2 separate regions of the Homo sapiens genome follow, and region 1 is linked to region 2. The links come from fine-mapping of genetic effects on gene expression. A gene starts in region 2. The other region holds a variant in brackets. All regions are shown on one strand. Distances are from middle to middle.

Region 1 (9,331 bases), 340 kb after region 2:
TTATTGTATCAGGATCAGGCTGGCCGGAACAGCAGGGCCCCTGCATCCCTGGAGCACATGCCGCTGACAGGCTGTGGCTCTGACTGTGCTGCTGCTGGCCTGCCTTCCTCAGCCCGGGCCCAGCACCGCCGTAGCCTTAAACCCATCCCAGCCTCTCACGTACCAGGCTCACAGTGGTTCCCTGGCCCAGGAACCCAGACCTCAGGCCTGCCTTCCAGCTTCCTGAGGGTCTGGGCAGAGGCTAGGCCCTGCTAGCATTGCCCTCCTGACAGCCTTCTAGAGTCAAGCTGGCACTGAGCCTGGCTTATGTCTGTCTCCACTCCCAAAATCGCACCACCCGGACCTGCCTGGCAGGGGTGGGCAGCCAGGGAAGCTGAGCACCATGGGGCACATGACAGCGGGGAGAGATGCCTAAAGATGCTCATCTTCCATCCCTGCTGTCCAGGTCTGGGAGCAACGAGGCCAATCCACAAAATGAGGGGCATTTTTTTCTGGGTCCAGCTCACTGGGGCTCCTACTGGAGGAAGCTGTGCGTATCTTGCTCTCCCCTGTCCCAAGATCGACCCTGCTGCTGGGACACAAGTTTGAAGATTCCTAACAGGACAACAGCAGTCTTTTGGGTTCTGTGTCTTGGGGTGGAGCAAGGAAAAGGAAGGAGCAGGCGGGGGTGGGCAGAGGAACCATCTCAGCCTGAAATCCCCACCCTGCTTGGAGAAGGGTTTCCTCTGCTTTTAAAGAGGCCAAGGAGAGATTTTATCCTTGAATTGCTGCAGTCAGTCCCCGATTATCTCCCATCATCGAGGTTTGGATGTGAAACACCATCATCTGATACAGTGACTAATAGAAAAGTCCCACTGTTTTGGCCACGGCTAGGCTGCCAGACACCACCCCCCTACCGCCACACACACGCACACACATGCTTGTTGGGTGGGGAGTCAAACAGACTCACACAAGTCACGCTGCCACAGGGGGCCATGTGCAGAGCAGCCACAGAGCTCCAGACACACAGCAGGAGACTCCAACATACCGAGTCAGACGTACGTACAAAGGGGCGGATGTACAGACACGCACGGGTGATGAGCGGCTCCATATAGCACATGGCTGGAGAGACACATCAGCTGTTCCCACCAGACGCACCACCATCCCAAGCTCCCCTCTCTGACTGCTGAGTGCAGAGGGCAGTGGGTGCTCCTGCTCCCCCATGATCTGTTAGTAACTGGAGACCCCAGGGAGATGAGGCTGAGCTGGGCGCTGTGCCCCAGGGATGGATCAAAGTGCCCTGCTAAATTTTAGGGGTTCACTTACCCGGTGTGGGTACTCTCCACACTGACCCTGGGAAGGAGAGGGAAGGGAAAGGTGGTGTTAGGCACTTGTTGGGGGTACCTGTTTCTCAGGGCACCCCCAGCACTTCAGGACATGCCACACATGTCACCGCTCACCAGCCCTCCTGCTCTAGTTTTGGTCTGAGCCCTCTGAGGCAGAAGAACTAAGTCCCTCCCTTGCCCCTGGCTAGCAGCAGGGAAGAAACTTCCATGGCCTGCCTGGAAGTGGCCCCAGGGAGCCTAGGGGTGGGGCTTCGCCTTATACCACTTGCCATAATGGCAGAGTCGGGAGTTATGCCCCATGCCTGGCGAAAGGTTGACCCTCTAGGCAGGCCCACCAGACAGCCCTGAACAGGAGCCACCGGATGGGAGCAGCCGGCACCATGGGGGTCCCAAGCCACCTTCTCTGAGCTGGGAGCGCCAGGCCCCTGTACCAGCGGCCCAAGGGCAAGCACAGCAGTGTCTCTATCAGAAATTCAACAAGACAGAGAGGGCAGGAGGCCAGGCCAGTGGTTTACAGGTTGATGCCTCTCAGAATCCCAGAGGCTCATGGAGGTGTCAGGGAACACCATGGAGTGACAGCTGGGAGGGGCCCAGAAAGAGGCTGAAGAGGGCCAGGCTCCAGGAGGACCCCTGGAAAGGATGTCACCCGGACCAGCCTCCAGGAGGACCCCTCACTCCAAGAAAAGGATGTCCCCTGGAGCGGTGTCAACCGAATCTATTATGCGGCACCTCGGGGGCTTTCCTGGTTCTGTCAATTAAAACTGAAGTTTGAAAATAACCATAATTGACCCCTTTCTACCAACTGGGAGGCCATTTCCTGAGATGGAGACTCTAGGAAACCTCCACTGCTCTTACCTTTTCTCCTTTTTGTCCCTGGGGTCCCTACAAAGAGACGGAGATGAGAGAGTTAGAAACCAAAGCTAAGGTCACAGCCACCGGAAGCTTCTCTGCTGGGAAATAGATGGATGAGGTACCAACCGGCTGTCCTGGGGGACCCGTCAGACCCTGTGGGAAGCAAACACACACAGGTCAGTGGGCAGACAGAAGACAGGCAATCAGGGACACCTGCCTGGGTGGGGATTGGGGCTGAATCCCGAAGGCTGGGCTCTACCAGCCATGGCCAGGTCTTCCCATGCCCACCACATTCAAGATGTCTTATTCACAGAGTCTCAGCTGCTTCACCCCCCAGTGGGCAGGACTAGGGCTGTGATGAAGAACAGATGGCATCTTTCATCCATTCCTCCAACCACCAGCATCTCATGGGCCAGCTATGGAGGGGCTCTACCTAGAGGTCAGGGAGTTTTCTGCTCCATGGGACCCCCTACCTCACATGCATCAAGCCTCTGGGAGACACTAGCACATTCCACCTCCTGCCTCCCAGGCTGCAGTGAAGCCCACTGAACCAGAAGAACTTCTGGCCTGGGGGTGCTGGGCCGGTGCCTCAGACAATGGGGGCCTTAGAGAAACCTTCAGCAAAAGAGAGAAAGCAGGAAGTTGGCAACTGAAGCCATGTTCTGGACTTCTCCAAGGAATATGAGGGGTCTTGAAGTTTCCTTCAAGGTTGTCTTGTCCATGCAGGGCTAGGAAAGGAGCTGGGGTTGGGAGGGACCCTTGCTGTCTGGGGAGGGCCCCGCATGCTCTGGCTCTCTTAGGAGGCTGCACCAAGGCTGGTGGAGGGAAGAGGAGAAAACAAATGCCTTATGGGCTGAGGATCCACCCTGAGGCTGGCTCTTCAGGTATGTGTCTGTGAGGGAGATGCTTGTGTCCACTCCAGCTCCCGAGTGAGGTGACAGAGACAAGGCCCCATGGCTCAGTGAAAGGTGGCACTGGGACAGGAGCCCAGGTTTGTCTGACGGCCAAGGTCCAGCTGTTTCCACTGCCAAATGCTCAGAACTGGGCCAGACCTTGGGAGTCAGGGCTTCTAGACTTGGCTAGAGCCATAAGCAGGTCCCTTTGAGCCACCAGTCTCTTTGGGGCCTGAAGCACTGCAGATCCCCAAGGGTGGGTCCATCTGGGAGGTGGCCGCAGCATGCTGTGATGTGCCAGAGCCTTGTTCCTGCTCCCCGCTTGCCAACAGGGCCACCTCCAAACTGGGAAACTCCCAAGAGCATCACTGGAAGGGAGAAGTGGCCTTTGGGACCATCCATGTGGCACTCCCAGCCCATGTGGCTGGCCAAGTGTTTATTGGTCTTTTATTGTTTTATTGAGACAGGGTCTCGCTCTGTTGTCCAGAATGGAGTACAGTGGTGTGATCTCCGCTCACTGCAGCCTCTGCCTCCTGGGTTCAGGCAGTCCTCCCACCTCTGCCTCACAAATAGCTAGGTCTACAGGCACACACTACCGTGCTTGGCTAACTCTTGCATTTTTTTGTAGAGACAGGGTTTTGCCATGTTGCCCAGGCTGCTCTCAAACTCCCAGACTCAAGCAATCTGCCCGTGCTGGCCTCCCAGAGTTCTGGGATTACAGGTGTGAGCCACCGCGCTCGGCCTGGCAGAGTGCTTAGAATGAAGTTCTGCAGCACATGATTCATCCGGCAGGGAACCCGGGCCCAGACCACAGGTGACCAGGTCATCCTCTGTCAGGACAGAGATATAAGTGTGATGGGGGAGGGGCAGGCGGAGTTTCAGGACTGCAGAGACTTGGACAATTGAAACCAGACATCCCAAACGGTGGCCCAGGGGACAATCGTGGTCTTCATAGGGATTTTGTTTGTCCCACATGGTTTTATTTCAACTAGTTGCCAATACTTAAGAGAGCAAGCAGAGTGCAAATAAAAATTTGGATTTCAAGTTTCTCTTAATTATGTCGAGGTCCAACAACACATGGTACCAGTTATCTTCAGCCAGGCAGCACCTGCCCCTTTAAGGGCCATGGCCACCGGTGATGTGCTTAGCACTTGCCAGCAGGCCTGTGCTAACCGCCACTGAGGCATAGCTAAGGCGCCTGTCTGCTTCTCGGGTGCCAAGCATGTTCTGAGTGCCTGGCGCTCCTCACTCGACAGCCCTGTGGGTGGTGGGTGAGATTTGGACTCAGTCCAGGCCTTGCTTTACAGCCCTTATGTCATTCCTGAGTCTCAGACCCCCAATCTTGTCCACCCCCCAACTACACTATTATACAACTGTGTCCTCCCAACACTTCAACACCTTATTTCAGGTTCTTGGGAATAATGTGAAGTGGGGGGGTGGGGCAGAGGTGACTCCCTTTTGAGAGGTGAGGACACAGGTTAAACAATGAGGGTGAGTGCCAGTGCCCCAGTGGGACGCCAGTGGAGGGGACAGCATCTGGGGCAGGAGACAGACAGATGAAGAGCAGGGCAAGGTAATGATGCTGGACAGCGGTGGGCAACTAACAGCTCGGGTACCCATGCCAAGCCAAACAGGAATCAGATGCTCTGTGGCCTGCTGGATTTGATGAGGCAGACAGGGGATCTATCCCACTGATGTGGGCTCA[C/T]GAGAGAGGGGGTGGGCCTGCCTTTTCTGTTGAGTTAGCTCTGATCCCTGGACAGGCGGTCAAGTGTGTGGGGCAGAGGGACGGTGTGGCAGAATGAGGGCAGGAAAAGCGGCCCCATGGAAGGGTCCCTTTCCTCCAGGACAAAGTGCTGGCTGCTGAGAGGAGGTGTGATCGAGGGGTAAGACTCCACTGCATGGGTCTGAATCTCAGCTGTTGTATTTAGGAGCTTTGTGGCCTCAGGCAATGTACTTAGCCACTCTGTGCCTCAATTTCCCCTCTCATGAAGTGGGGATGATAAGCTGTTATGAGGATGACAGAGTGCTGCCTAGAGGATGACCATTATTATTACTTCTGGGGGGCCATGGGCTGCCTTACGGTAGCATAAGGCTGCCAGAGAGGGAAAGAAGCTCAGGCTGAAGGGATGAGCACCCCAAGCCCTTTATGCCTCTATAACAATGTGGCATGGCAGTTTCTTCCTGCCTCGGTCTCCACTACTCCATGCATGTGCACAGCATGCCTGGGAATGGGGTAGGGGCGGGGGGAAATGCATTTGCAGCGGAGGCAGCTGTGATGGAGAGGAAACCTTGCTGGGGAACCTGGATTCCAGCGCCAGCTCTTCTGCCACTGCCTCCAGGGCCTTCTGCCTCCAGTGCCCTTCCTCCGGTTCTGCAGACATGTCAAGGATTTTCCTACCTCAGGACCTTTGCACGTGCTATTCTCCCATGTCCAGAAAGCACATTCCCATCCCCCTTTCTATTTTCTCTCGGTTGAATGCTCATTCTTCAGGCACTAGTTCAAAAGTCTCTTTCTCAGAAAAGCCGTCTCCGACCTTTGGCCTGGGTGAGGTTTTTGTTATACCAAGATTTCCAGGGCACTAAGGATTATCTTTTTATAGCACTCATTGCAAAGCAACTTGTTAGTTATGTGAGTGATCATTTAAAAGGATGTCTCCCTACTAGACTGTGAGCTACAGATGGCAAGAACAGTCTCTCTCTTGCTCCCGTCTGTATCCCTAGCACCTGAAGCAGTGCCCAGCACATTTTAGATACTCCATAAAAAATGCATTAAAAGAAGGAAGGTGGCAGGAAGGCTGACAAAGAGTGAGGGAAACAGAAAGGGAGGAAGGTAATAAAACCTTAATAAAAAAAGGGAGGGAAGGAATTTGAGAACTGTGTTTCGATCTTGTTTTGGACATTCAGCTGTGTGACTTCAGGCAAGTTAGTTAGACTCTCTGAGCCTTGGTTTCCACACCTGTCAAAGGGGATTCTAGCAAGACCTGGAGCACAGAGTTACGCTGAGGATTGAGACAGTCATGCAAAGTGCTTAGCCCAGTGCCAACCACGTGGCAAACCCTCAATAAATATTAGTTGGATCTGAGTCAAGAGGACAGGTTGGGGCCCAGAGGGAGCTGGCAAGTTAGGAAGAGCTAGGCTGGAGCCCAGGCCTTGCAGCCAACACTCCACCATCCCCCTTTCCACCCACATGATTACCTGCCTCCCTCCATGCCCTGGCAGTGCCCCAGTCATGGGTCAAGGGTTGTCTTCACACCAGCGCTTGGAGCAAGGCATGAGCCAGGCCCCCACTGAACAGGGACAGGGGGAGCCTGCTGCGTTGCTTTCACCACCCTGCACAAATTCCTGGCCCACCAACCTGTGGAGCAGGAGGTGGTCCCTCACAGTAGGTGCGACCTGGATCTTAGGAGGCAGAAATGCACCCCAGCCCAGGGCTGTTTTGTTTGTCTGTCTGTTTGTTTGTTTTTTTAAAGCAGGGATTTATTGAAAACCAAAATACACTCCACAGTGTGGGAGCAGGGGCCCATTAGCTCTTAATGGCCCATCAGTCCCTGCTGAGATCTGGCCCACCGTGAGAGTGCGCAGCCCCTCATTCCCTTCTGGAAGGGATGGTCTGTGGAGACAGAAAATTTATTTCCAAAGCTCTGCAGAAGGTAGGGGCCAGGAGAAAGCTGGGCCAAATGTTGTCTCTCCACCTTTTTGGGGCCTGAGGCACTCCAGGTACCCTGGGCAGATCCATCTGGGTGGTGGCCGCGGGATGCTGTGACATGGAAGAGAAGACCTTGCTCCTGCTCCTGACTTGCCAAGTGGCCCAACCTCCAAACAGAAACTCCCAGGAAGGGAGAGGGGAAGGGGCCTTTGGGATGATGCATGTGGCACCCCCAGCTGAGATGATCCACTGGGCACCACCAGCCCCAGTGGGGCAGGAACCCCTGGAGTCCTGGGGTGGCTCAGGGCACAGCCAGCACCCGGAAGGGGTTATGAGGCCTTGAGGGACCTCAGGCTCAGTAGAAATGGTGTCTCCTAGAGAAAGTGTCCCCTGTGAGTGCAGATGAAACCTTGTCTCCCAAGGCCCATGCGAGTGTGGTTTGAGAGCAGTAAGCTGGACACCGACCTCTGTGTGCTACCAGCCAGGTGTGCACTCTCTCTGGATCTCCCATCCTCATGCTTCAGATGGAGAAGCCCCTGCCCATTTCTCCTCCCTGCATATTGATGTGAGGATCCAGGGCATGTGGTTTACACAGCTGGGGAGTGACCAGCATGGACAGCCATTCCTGTTGTCCCTGTGGGACCCACTTTGCAGTGCTTGGCTGTGCCTGTGAGGCTGGGCCAACCCCCACCCATCTCGGGAAGGCAGGAAAGCTGGGCTCTTACCATGTCGCCCTTTGGTCCTGGGTGGCCCTGGAAGGAGAAGAGGGTGAGTACCAGGTGCACTGTTCGCAGCCCAGAAGTTCCACCCTCTGTCCTTCATGCTCCTCCCTGCCCCCTGTGCTCCTCCCTGCCCCCCGTGCTCCTCCCTGTCCCCTGTGCTCCATCTGCACCTTCTGGCTTGTGCACTCCTTCACCCAGTCCCTAAGGCAAGGTCATTTGCTCACTGCCCCTCGCTGGGCCTCACTAGCAGCTGCCTGCCCTTCAGAGAGCAGGGGTGGGGGTAGTCTCCCTAGACCCCAACGCTCATGCCATTCACATGTCCAGGGTAGCTTCGGGGGATGCCTGGTCCCGTGACATGAGTGGAAATGATTGCTGGCACCCCTGGGCTGCACTTAGCTCGCTGGCCTGCAGTTGGGGAGTAACTGGGTGGTGCTAGGGTCCCTCAACTGAGAGAGGCGAGTGGCGGGGCCAGGCATGGCTGTGAGTGGGGCTGCATTCCGTCCACCCTGAGGGCTTTGGATGGGTCATGCTCCCTTCCAGCTGACTTGCTCCTAGGACTGGGGAGGGGACTCCTTTCTCCCATGAACATTTGTGTCAGGGAACCAAGTCCAAAGGATTGAAATGAACGAAGAGAGGAGCTATGGTGGGAAGCAGTCTCCACGTGGACTTGAGCACACGTGTGGGGTCTCAATCGGGGAGGGAGACCCTGACCTCGAGGACAGGGCCATGGGAGACACAGGTGCTGGGGAGCAGGGGCAAGCGTGTGCATGAGTGGCCAGGCTCTTCAGACCAGCTATTTGACCTCCGTACCCTCCACTCTCCTCACTGCCTCCTGATCTCACCCCCACCCCACCCAGAATCACCCATTCTAGGGATGGCTCTCGCCTGGACTTCGAAAGCCAAGCTCAGCAGCTGGGGACCTGTGCCCTGGGGAAGGCCACTGGGGTCAGGGGTGACTCAAATGGCCCCCTCCACTTCCCACTAGTGACAACCTTCAGCCCCAGGACTTTTCTTTCTAAGTAAAGCATTTTCCAAGGATTCAATATCTTGCAGAATGACCAAGAGATCCAGGATCACTGACCTGCAGTGAGGGGAGAGAGCGGGTCCACTTACCGGTTTGCCGTCCAGCCCAATGGGACCCTGAAACCAGAAAGGCCAGATGTAAAGACTGAGCATCACAGGACTCCTGCCAAAGAGGCTGCCTGGGCAGTGGGGAAAAGCACAGATTCTGGATTCTGATAAGTTGGAGCTCAAGGCCCTGCTTGACCACGTACTTGTTAATGTGACTATGGGTAAGCCTAGGCCTCAACTTCCCATCCTGAAATGGGGTTGAGAATAATAGAATGTTGGATGCCAGGTGCACAGCGCAAGAGAGAACCCAATGGGTGGCCTCCCCATTAATGTCAAGGACCTCACCCTTGTCCTGAGTGCAGAGTAGGTGGTGTGTTCCTAGAAATCAGGGGCTGGCCTGCATTGAGGTTGGGAGAAAGGGGGAACTGCTCCCTCTGCTCTGCCTGTCAGAACCTGCCTTAGGCCCCATAAGCAGAGGTCAAGGACACCCAGATGGCCACCCCTCTGCCTCCCCCTCGCTGGATCTCCTCTCAAAGCTCAGGCACAGGCTGAGCTGCAGGGTGTTCTCCCACAGGGCATCGTCCATTCTATATTCCCAGGTCAATGCTGGGGTTTATCAGCCTGTGACTTCACTCACCTGGGGCCTGTCCTGCTGCCCCTTAATTTGTGTATTTGCTCCCCTGTATTTATTCCTTGCATCATGACCTGACTGCTGAGCTACTGTCCTGAGTTGGTGTCCATGAATGGCTGTAGAAGCAAGTCCTTAATGACCAGGGTTTGGGAGAGAAAGAGTGGAACCGGGGCTGACCTCAGATGAAGTTT
Region 2 (8,985 bases):
GCCTTCTGGGTTCAAGAGATTCTCCTGCCTCAGCCTCCTGAGTAGCTGGGATTACAGGTGCGTGCCACCACATCCAGCTTATTTTTGTATATTTTTAAATAGAGACGGGTTTCACCATGTTGGTCAGGCTGGTCTCGAACTCCTGAGCTCGTGATCCGCCGGCCTTGGCCTCCCAAAGTGTTGGGATTACAGGCATGAGCCACCGCGCCCGGCCTAGTCTCACCTAACCGTTTTCTGGCTTTTGCCTTGTCCCCTTTGCCTTATTAATTCCATGTCATCATTCAGATTGCAGGTTACAGGTCACTTCCTTGAAGAGGTTTTCTGCTCCCATAATGTAATGCCCTGTACTTCCTATATCATTCTACTCACCCAAATTTATTATAATTATTTGTTGAAGTCTGTCTTTCTTCTAGACTATAAGTTCTGACTATAAGGCCTAGTAGGGCTACATCCCTACCCACCTATCACAGAGCATGACCACAGTAAGTGTTAAATAAGAGTTAGTTATAGATTTGAAAGTTTTCATGTTATAGGACCTCTAGGTGGTAGCTGACGCCAGAGATATACATGAGATAATCTAGACAAAGAGTATTGCTCTAGAGAGAGAGAGAGAACATGAGAAATAAGAAAGACAATGATGATTAAGATGATGAAATGAAGGCTGAGAAGGAGAATGAGAAATGAGTAGCAAAGAAGTAGGAATGGGCCGGGCGTGGTGGCTCATGCCTGTAATCCCAGCACTTTGGGAGGCCGAGGCAGGCAGATCACGAGGTCAGGGCTTCGAGACCAGTTTGGCCAACATGGTGAAACCCGGTCTCTACTAAAGGTACAAAAAATTAGCTGGGCGTGGTGGCAGGCGCCTGTAATCCCAGCTACTCTGGAGGCTGAGGCGGGAGAATTGCTTGAACCCGAGAGGCGGAGGTTGCAGTGAGCCGAGATCGCACCACCGCACTCCAGCCTGGGCGACAGAGCGAGACCCCATCTCAAAAAAAAAAAAAAAAGAAGTAGGAAGAACACGAGAAGAGAATGTAGTCGTGGCCTGGCACCGTGTCTCACGCCTGTAATCCCAACACTCTGGGAGGCTGAGGTGGGCAGATCATTTGAGGCCAGGAGTTCGAGGCTAGCCTGGCCAACATGATGAAAACACATCTCTACTAAAAATACTAAAATTAGCCAGGCATGGTGGTGCATGCCTGTGATCCCAGCTACTCAGGAGGCTGAGGTACAAGAATCACTTGAACCTGGGAGGTGGAGGTTGCAGTGAGCCGAAATCACACCACTGTACTCCAGCCTGGGTGACAGAGTGAGACTCTGTCTCAAAAAAGAAAAAAAAAAAAAAGAAGAGAATGTAGTCGCAAGCCAAAGAAGGAAATTAGAGACACCCAACAGGGTCACCCACAGCAAAGGGGACAGGATATGGACTGAAAAGTGCCACTAGATTTGGTCACTGAGTGAGAAAGATAATATTTGAGAAGAGATGGACTCCTTCTTTGTCAAACTAATGTACTTAAGAAGGTATTTTCCACCTTTACATTAATTCCTCTACCTATCCGTCCAGCAAAGATTCACTAAACATCTACTCTAGGCTGTGTACTGTGCTAGGCCCTAGGGAGACATGGTAGACCAAGGTCCTTTTGGGCCTATGGGCTCACTACACTTGCCTGCAAAGGAAAGTTACAATTCACCAGGGCTGGGTGTTTTACCAGACCTGATAATGACTGGCTCTCTGAATACATTCGATGAAACAAGAGCCAGTGTGCAAGTCTGGAGGTCAGTGAGACTTTATTATCTTGCTCTGAGCTGGCAGGAGGCAAAGGGAAAGTGTATGTAGAACATTATTATTGCATCACTGCTGTCTTCTTAAGTCAGTCACAGATGAGAGTCTGGGTTTTTCCAAGAAAATTGGTTCCATCTGCTCAAAGGCAGAAAAGTGATAGAGCAGTTCAATCAAAAGAGCATCCCCTTAAAATATTCTTTGAACTTGATCCTACTTTTTTTTCTGAAACAGAGTCTCGCTCTGTCACCCAGGCTGGAATGCACTGGCGTGATCTCAACTCACCGCAACCTCCGCCTCTCGGGATCAAGTGTTCTCCTGCCTCAGTCTCCCGAGTAGCTGGGATTACAGGCGCGTGCAACCACGCCCAGCTAATTTTTGTATTTTTACTAGGGACAGGGTTTCACTGTGTTGGCCAGGCTGGTTTCCAACTCCTGACGTCGGGTAATCCGCCCACCTCGGCCTCCCAAAGTGCTGGGATTGAAGGCGTAAGTCACCGCGCCTGGCCTTGACCCTAATTATTGACTAAACTATTGCTTCGCTAATTTTTTTTCCTGCCCTTCTGTTTTAACAGCAGTAAAACAGTGTGGTGAAATGTTCAAAAAATCAGTGAATCACAGCCTTCTGAAAATTAATGGGTGTCAGTGAGGTTTGGGAGTTGGATGGAGACAAAGGGAGCGACACCATAACTAACTGGAGATCTTACTAGGTTTTCATTTAATATTCATTTTTTACAATAGACATTGTTTGGAAAAAAGGGTTTAATTCAAAATGTCATTAAGGCACATTATCTTTAATGTTCTAGAAAAAGTTATTTAAAGAAATCCTGGCCATGAAATTAAAATAAATAAATAAATAAAACCAGGCATTCTTTGAAATGTGAATAATAATTTGCTAATTTATATTTAGGATTGTGGATATACTTTTTTTCTTTTACATGTATTCCTGGGGAGGTAAGTGATGCAAATATTTTCCCACTGCCTCAATCAGACTTTAGTTTTTGGGGTCTGGCCTGATATGATGGAATATAAACAGGAAATCAAGATCAGAAGAGCCTGTCCCTGAGAACACTCCTTCACGGGACTCTAGCTCACGCCTGGACCTTCCCAGTGCTTCCATCTGAAGCCCCTGGAGACCCAGGTGGGTTAAGTAGGGTGGCAGGGGGGATGGAGGGGGCGGGGGGCGCGGGGGCGTAAATCCTCCCCCACTGGGGAGGGTGACAGTAACAACTTCCAGATTGTTTACAAAGATACAGGCTCTGCTTCAGGCATTTGACGTGTATTAACTCGGGTAATCATCCCAGTAACTCATGAAATAGTTATATTATTATCTTCACTTCCCAGATAAGCAACGGAGTGAGAGAGATTATAGAAAGTGGAGAAGCGAGTACCTTACTAGTAGCCACTAGGGGTGTCAGTAATATGGCTCAACTTTGTTACGACGGATCAGAAAAATGCTCACCTTTAAGACCGCAAGCAGAGCCTGTCTGGGGAAGCAGGTGACTTATCAACGCCTTTTGAGATAAGGAATAGGACTGCGGGGAGGAGTGTGTGAGAATCAAAGGTGAGTTCCCTGTGTGCGTGGTCGGCGGTCAACTCCTAGCTAGTCCAAGCTTAGAGCCTGCGCATTTGCCCTCCCGGGTCAGAGCCCAAAGCCGAAGGAACAGAACCAGCGCCGGCGGCAGCCACGTGGCCCAGCCTCTGAGCCCTAGCTGCCATCGCGGAGGCTGGGCCCGAGGGGCGGGGCTGGGGAGTGCGGACACCCGGGCCTGGCGGAGTGCGCCTGCGCACGGGGTTGGCCCGGCGGGGGTGGGAACACTAGCAGAGCCGCGTTAAAGGCGCTCCCCGCCCCGCCCGCCGGTCCAGTGCTCGCAGTGCGCAGGCGTGGGGCTCTCTCCTTGTCAGTCGGCGCCGCGTGCGGGCTGGTGGCTCTGTGGCAGCGGCGGCGGCAGGACTCCGGCACTATGAGCGGCTTCAGCACCGAGGAGCGCGCCGCGCCCTTCTCCCTGGAGTACCGAGTCTTCCTCAGTGAGTGTCTGCGGCCCGTGGCCCCTCCGCGCCCGTCCGCCCATTCATTCCCGGGCCTTGCCTCCCCGGGAGGGTGCGGCCCGCGCTCGGCCCCAGGTCTCCGACGCGGGCCCGTCTCCTCGGGCGCGTTGTGGGGCCTGGCCGGCCTCACATTGCATACTTGCCGCCGCCGGTCGGGGCGGCGAGGGTCGCCTCCGGCCATCCCTCCCCGCTGAACGGAGATGGTCCCTTTGTCACGCCTCGGGGTACCCGAACCTGGGCCCAGCTAGTTTTGCAGGTGTCTGGCTCTGACAGGGTCTGTTGGGAAAAGGAAATCACCGACCCACCCTAGAAAGGTGCTTGGAAGTAACATAATTCCCGTAAGAGGATTGCTCAGTTTGGAGAAAAGGCGACTCCGGGCCGGGGGGGGCAGTGACTTCCTAAAGACCTTAATTCCGCCGCCGTAGCTCAGATTATCGGCGCTGAGCGGAGCCAAGTCCACCCCCTCGTTTTACAGACGGGAAAACTGAGGCCCGGATCGGGAGCCGTCTGTGAAGGCGCTGGACCGGTCCTCCGCGGCCCGGTCGTGCTCCTGCCTCTGCGCCGCCTGTTTTCCCTCAGCGCCGATGCTGGGAATGCTCCTTATGAAACAGAAAGCTGTTTCCCTCAAATCAAACAGATGACGTCAGTCTGGAAACAAGACTGAGAAAGTGCCAAGTTTTTACCTTTGCAGGATTCGGCGTCTAGGGGGTACCTACCCCGGGTCCTGCACCTAGGGCTGCACGGGGAAACCGGGAGGCTGCATGCTGGCGCCCTCCACGCTCCTTAGGGCACCACGTTTTTTTGGCCTTGTAGGTGGAGGAAAGCTACTTGGGGTTTTTCTTTATCCTCTTACTCCCCCCACCCCCAGCTACTAGGAGTAGATTATGGGCGATAACGGAGGCGTTCGTAAATGTGTCACCACAGGCGCTTCTATTGTAACCTCTTTACAGTTTTATTTGGAAGGAAATGGGCAGGTGCCTCGAACTCTGAGTTGGTGTATGAAGGAAGGGGAAGCGGGGAGTAGAGGAGACGAATGAATAGGCATTGAAGGAACAAAAAGTAGCCTGGTGCGGGAGGAAAAGGAAAGCGAACTGTAAAGCTTACACATCTAGCCAAAGGTTAACTATCAGGTAAAATCCAGGAAGGGTGAGAACTACCCCCCACTCTCCATTTTATTTAATTTTGCAATTAAGCAGCAAGGACAGTCCAGTAACTTTTGACTAATAATTCATGGGACTGTTTTTCTGGAAATAGTGTTGGCTCCAGAATTTCTCTGTAGGAAAGGCTTACAGAGGTGACTGTCTGGTTTGAAGGTGAGGGGTGGATCTTCAAGCTATATATGCAGAACAAACACACTGCTTTTACTTAGGTTATTTATTTGCAATTAATATTTGGTGGCCGTTATGGGAGACCAAAGCTACTCCTAGAATTTGGCACTAGCTGAAGTAACTGTTTTTATCAAGTGGAACTCTCTGGAACTTAAGAAATACTAATAATTAGAACCCACTACATAGTTATCCAATTTTAAGTGCTTTATCCTTCCTTAATAGAAATAAACTTTTTTAAGCTTTATAATATTACATTTGTCAATTTCTTTAAAACTGATAAAGGGCTGGACAGACTGCAAAGTCACAATTGGCCCTAAAGGGACTTTTATGTTTTATTGTTTGTTTTTTGAAACAAAGTCTCGCTCTGTTGCCCAGGCTGGAGTGCAGTGGCATGATCTTGGCTCATTGCAACTTCAGCCTCCCGGGTTCAAGTGATTCTCCTGCCTCAGCCTCCCAAGTAGCTGGGATTACAGGCACTTGCCACCATGCCTGACTAATTTTTGTATTTTTAGTAGAGACGGGGTTTCACCATGTTGGCCAGGCTGGTCTTGAACTCCTTACCTCCAGTGATCCACCTGCTTTGGCCTTCCAAAGTGCTGGGATTACAGGCGTGAGCCACCGTGCCTGGCCTCCACTTTGATTTTTAAACTTGAAGGGATGCGATGTGGACAGTAGGTTTCCTAAAGAATACTGAAGAAGTTTTAAAATTACTTTTTGGCTATAGTTAGGCCTCTAGAATATATTAGTAATATATATCTAGAATATAATAGAAATTATTTGTGAAGATGTTTGTTGCAACTTGATTATCCTTAAAGAAAGTCATAATCTAAGATGGCTGGCTGTCTCTGGGAACACCACTTTTAGCAACATTGTTTAGTAAAGTGGTCCCCTCCCTTCCTCCCAAGTACTTCATAATGGTTCTGTAAACTTAACTGATGTAAGATCAGTCCAAAACAATTTAATCGCCTTTTGTGTCCTCAGTAGTCTCTGCTCTCACTATAGAGATTAGTACTTATTAGATGCCTACAGAGTGCATAGGATGTAAACCCAGCCTAGCCTGGGAGTACAGTCAGGAGAAGTGAAGTATACAAACAGTTTTTCTAGTGTAAGAATAATATCTTGGTTTAAAAATGTGTACTGGTCGGGTGCAGGGTGCGGTGGCTCACCCCTGTAATTCCAGCCCTTTGGGAGGCTGAGGTGGGCAGACTGCTTTGAGCTCAGGAGTTGGAGACCAGCCTGGGGAACATGGCAACACCACCTCCCTACAAAAGACACAAAAATTAGCCAGACGTAGTGGCTCATGCCTGTAGTTCCAGCGGCTCAGGAGGCTGAGGCTGGAGGATCACTTGAGCCTTCAAGAGGGAAACAGAAGTGGCAGTGAGCCAAGATCACACCATTGCACACCATCCTGGGTGACAGAGTAAGGGACCTTATCTCAGAAAAAAAAAATGTGTACTGTGGGCATTTAGCAATACAATTAATTATAGTAATAACTTTTTCTAATTTATTTTGCAGAAAATGAGAAAGGACAATATATATCTCCATTTCATGATATTCCAATTTATGCAGATAAGGTAAGGCATCCTTGTTTTTGGACACAGTCTCTTTACTCAGATCAGCTAGTTCTACATATGAATTTTCTTATATGTCTCTCAACAAGTGCTTAAAATGCCTCGTTGTGCTGTGAGCTAAAGGTCTGTTGATTAGGCTGGGCGTGGTGGCTCACGCCTGTAATCCCAGCACTTTGGGAGGCTGAGGCGGGTGGAGGGCTTGAGTCCAGAAGTTCAAGAACAGCCTGGGCAACATGGTGAAACCCTGTCTCTACAAAAAATACAAAAATTAGCCGGGCATGGTGGCATGTGTCTGTAGTCTCAGCTACTTGGAAGGCTGAGGTGAGAGGATCGCTTGTGCCTGGGAGGCAGAGGTTGCAGTGAGCCGAGATGGCACTACTGTACTCCAGCTGGGTGACAGAGTGAGACCCTGTCTCAAAAAAAAAGGTCCATTGACTAAATAAGAAGTTAGTCTTAAAACTAGATTATTTAGTTAAAGGAGCAAATATAATTTGGGGAAGGAGAGGAGGAGTAAAAGCAAAAGTATTTAATCTGTCTTGGAAAAAAAAAAGAAAAAATTACATTGGTCCTTTTTGTATGTGTATTTGGAACTAAAGTCGTAATACTTCATTACTGGTTCTAAAATAAACCAGGTAGCCAGCACAGAATTTTGGCTGTGGGATCTTTATGAAACAGTAAAAGTAAACTAGATTATTCAATGAGTATAGGAAAATTTAGTAACGGGCTAGTACCGTTAAGATTTGCACAGTTAAGATAGAGTTAATACAGGTAGGCACACAGACTTCTAAAAGGACATAGCTGTTCCTGTATACACCAGTGAGAAGAAACCTAACTTTAATACAGATTGGTAGGCTTACCACAAATTGTAAAAGTCTTTACTTTTCTAGGGGAAAAAGAAGTCTACAACTGTATACACCAGAATAGCTGAGTGTGGGGCAATTGTAATCCCACTTGGGAGGCTGTGCTGGGAGGATCACTTGAGTCCAGGAGTTTGAGACCAGACTGGGCAACATAGCAAGAACCTGTCTTAGGAAAATAAATAACAATAAAATATATATCAAAATAGTTATGATTCGTGGGACTGCCAGTGACTCTTGGTTTTATTTTCATTTTTGTCTTTTTATATTGTCTAATCTTTTTACAAAGAACATGTGTTATAAGAACAACTTTAAACAGTCATTTTAAAAAACACATCTTTTCTTACTCTCCTTTCCAATGGAAGCAGTTTGTACTGTATTTAGCAACTTAACACAAGGACAAATATCTTATTCTTTTTCTACCTTTCAGTTTTTTTCCTTCAGTAAGGAAGTTTGATTCACATTGAGTACAAAGGTTTTTGAGTTGTAAGAGTTACATAGGTTATTGACTTTCTTTAGCTAGATGTCAATATACAACACGAACATCACTTTGCAGTGCACGTCTAGAATAATAGTAATTTTGTTCTTGTGTGTGCTGTCTTACTGTTTTTCTGGGCCTGACTATTAGATAGAAATAGACACATTCATTGCACTTCTACCAGGAAGTTTGCTGCAGTTCTGTACTGCCTGAAATTCCAATTTTTACATTGCTTCCCAGGAGCCTTCCTGGGTAAGACTCCAATTAGAGGCAATGGAGCAAACAGCCCTAGGCCAATTATGTGCCACAAATACAGGAGGGACTTCTAATTGGCATGTGTTTTTCCTGTGGGAGTGTCAGAGTGGTATTTATTCAGAAACTCGAATTTGTTACATCTGATTTCCTGGGAGTTGATATAAACTGCAGAATCCTTCCCTCTTCAATTGGCCCCATTGGGTTGGCTTGAATTATCTGCTTGTTGTATAATAGCATGTATATCATACTGTAGCATCTCAGACCATTTTGAGCAATGAAGAGGTATAAAATGATGACCCTAAGTTTATTGATAATACCCTGGCATACAGGTATGCTACAGGTAGGAAAACATTTTCTTGACATAGAGCTATTTTCCCAGTGTTCTAAGTGACTGTATTCCTACCAAGGACCAGAATGATCATAGATGTTTTGGTACCTACTCTTATTGCTGCTTCAGGTTACTCCAAAATAGGAAACAGGCTACATTTTGGTGTCCTGTTAAGTGTGTTCACTTAGATTACTCTCAGACACTGAAGCCTTATAAGGGACTGGTTGTGTCTATAAAGTGGATTACTCAAAGGAAGACTCTGCCCTTGGCACGCCCTGTCCCAGCTCAAAAGCACAAGTTCTTATGACTCTGGATTTTACCAGTAGTCTAGACCTCAGTGGACCTT

The links. PIP is the estimated chance that this variant, and not a neighbour inherited with it, causes the effect.
Region 1: its variant is fine-mapped to the expression of PPA1 in ovary (GTEx, PIP 0.95).

What each region holds. Positions count from the first base shown.
Region 1 is chr10:69,887,551-69,896,881 of GRCh38, reverse strand. COL13A1 (collagen type XIII alpha 1 chain) reads right to left here. Exons shown (of 41, transcript NM_001368882.1): 9 at 8,552-8,578; 10 at 7,442-7,468; 11 at 2,304-2,330; 12 at 2,181-2,207; 13 at 1,306-1,332. Among named protein-coding and RNA genes, the nearest start is that of COL13A1, 90 kb to the right of the region's middle. The variant C/T (reference allele first, on the strand shown) is at 4,776.
Region 2 is chr10:70,228,080-70,237,064 of GRCh38, reverse strand. It overlaps PPA1 (inorganic pyrophosphatase 1), which reads left to right and starts at 3,636. Exons shown (of 11, transcript NM_021129.4): 1 at 3,636-3,801; 2 at 6,666-6,724. The coding sequence starts at 3,738. RefSeq lists a silencer at 3,425-3,994.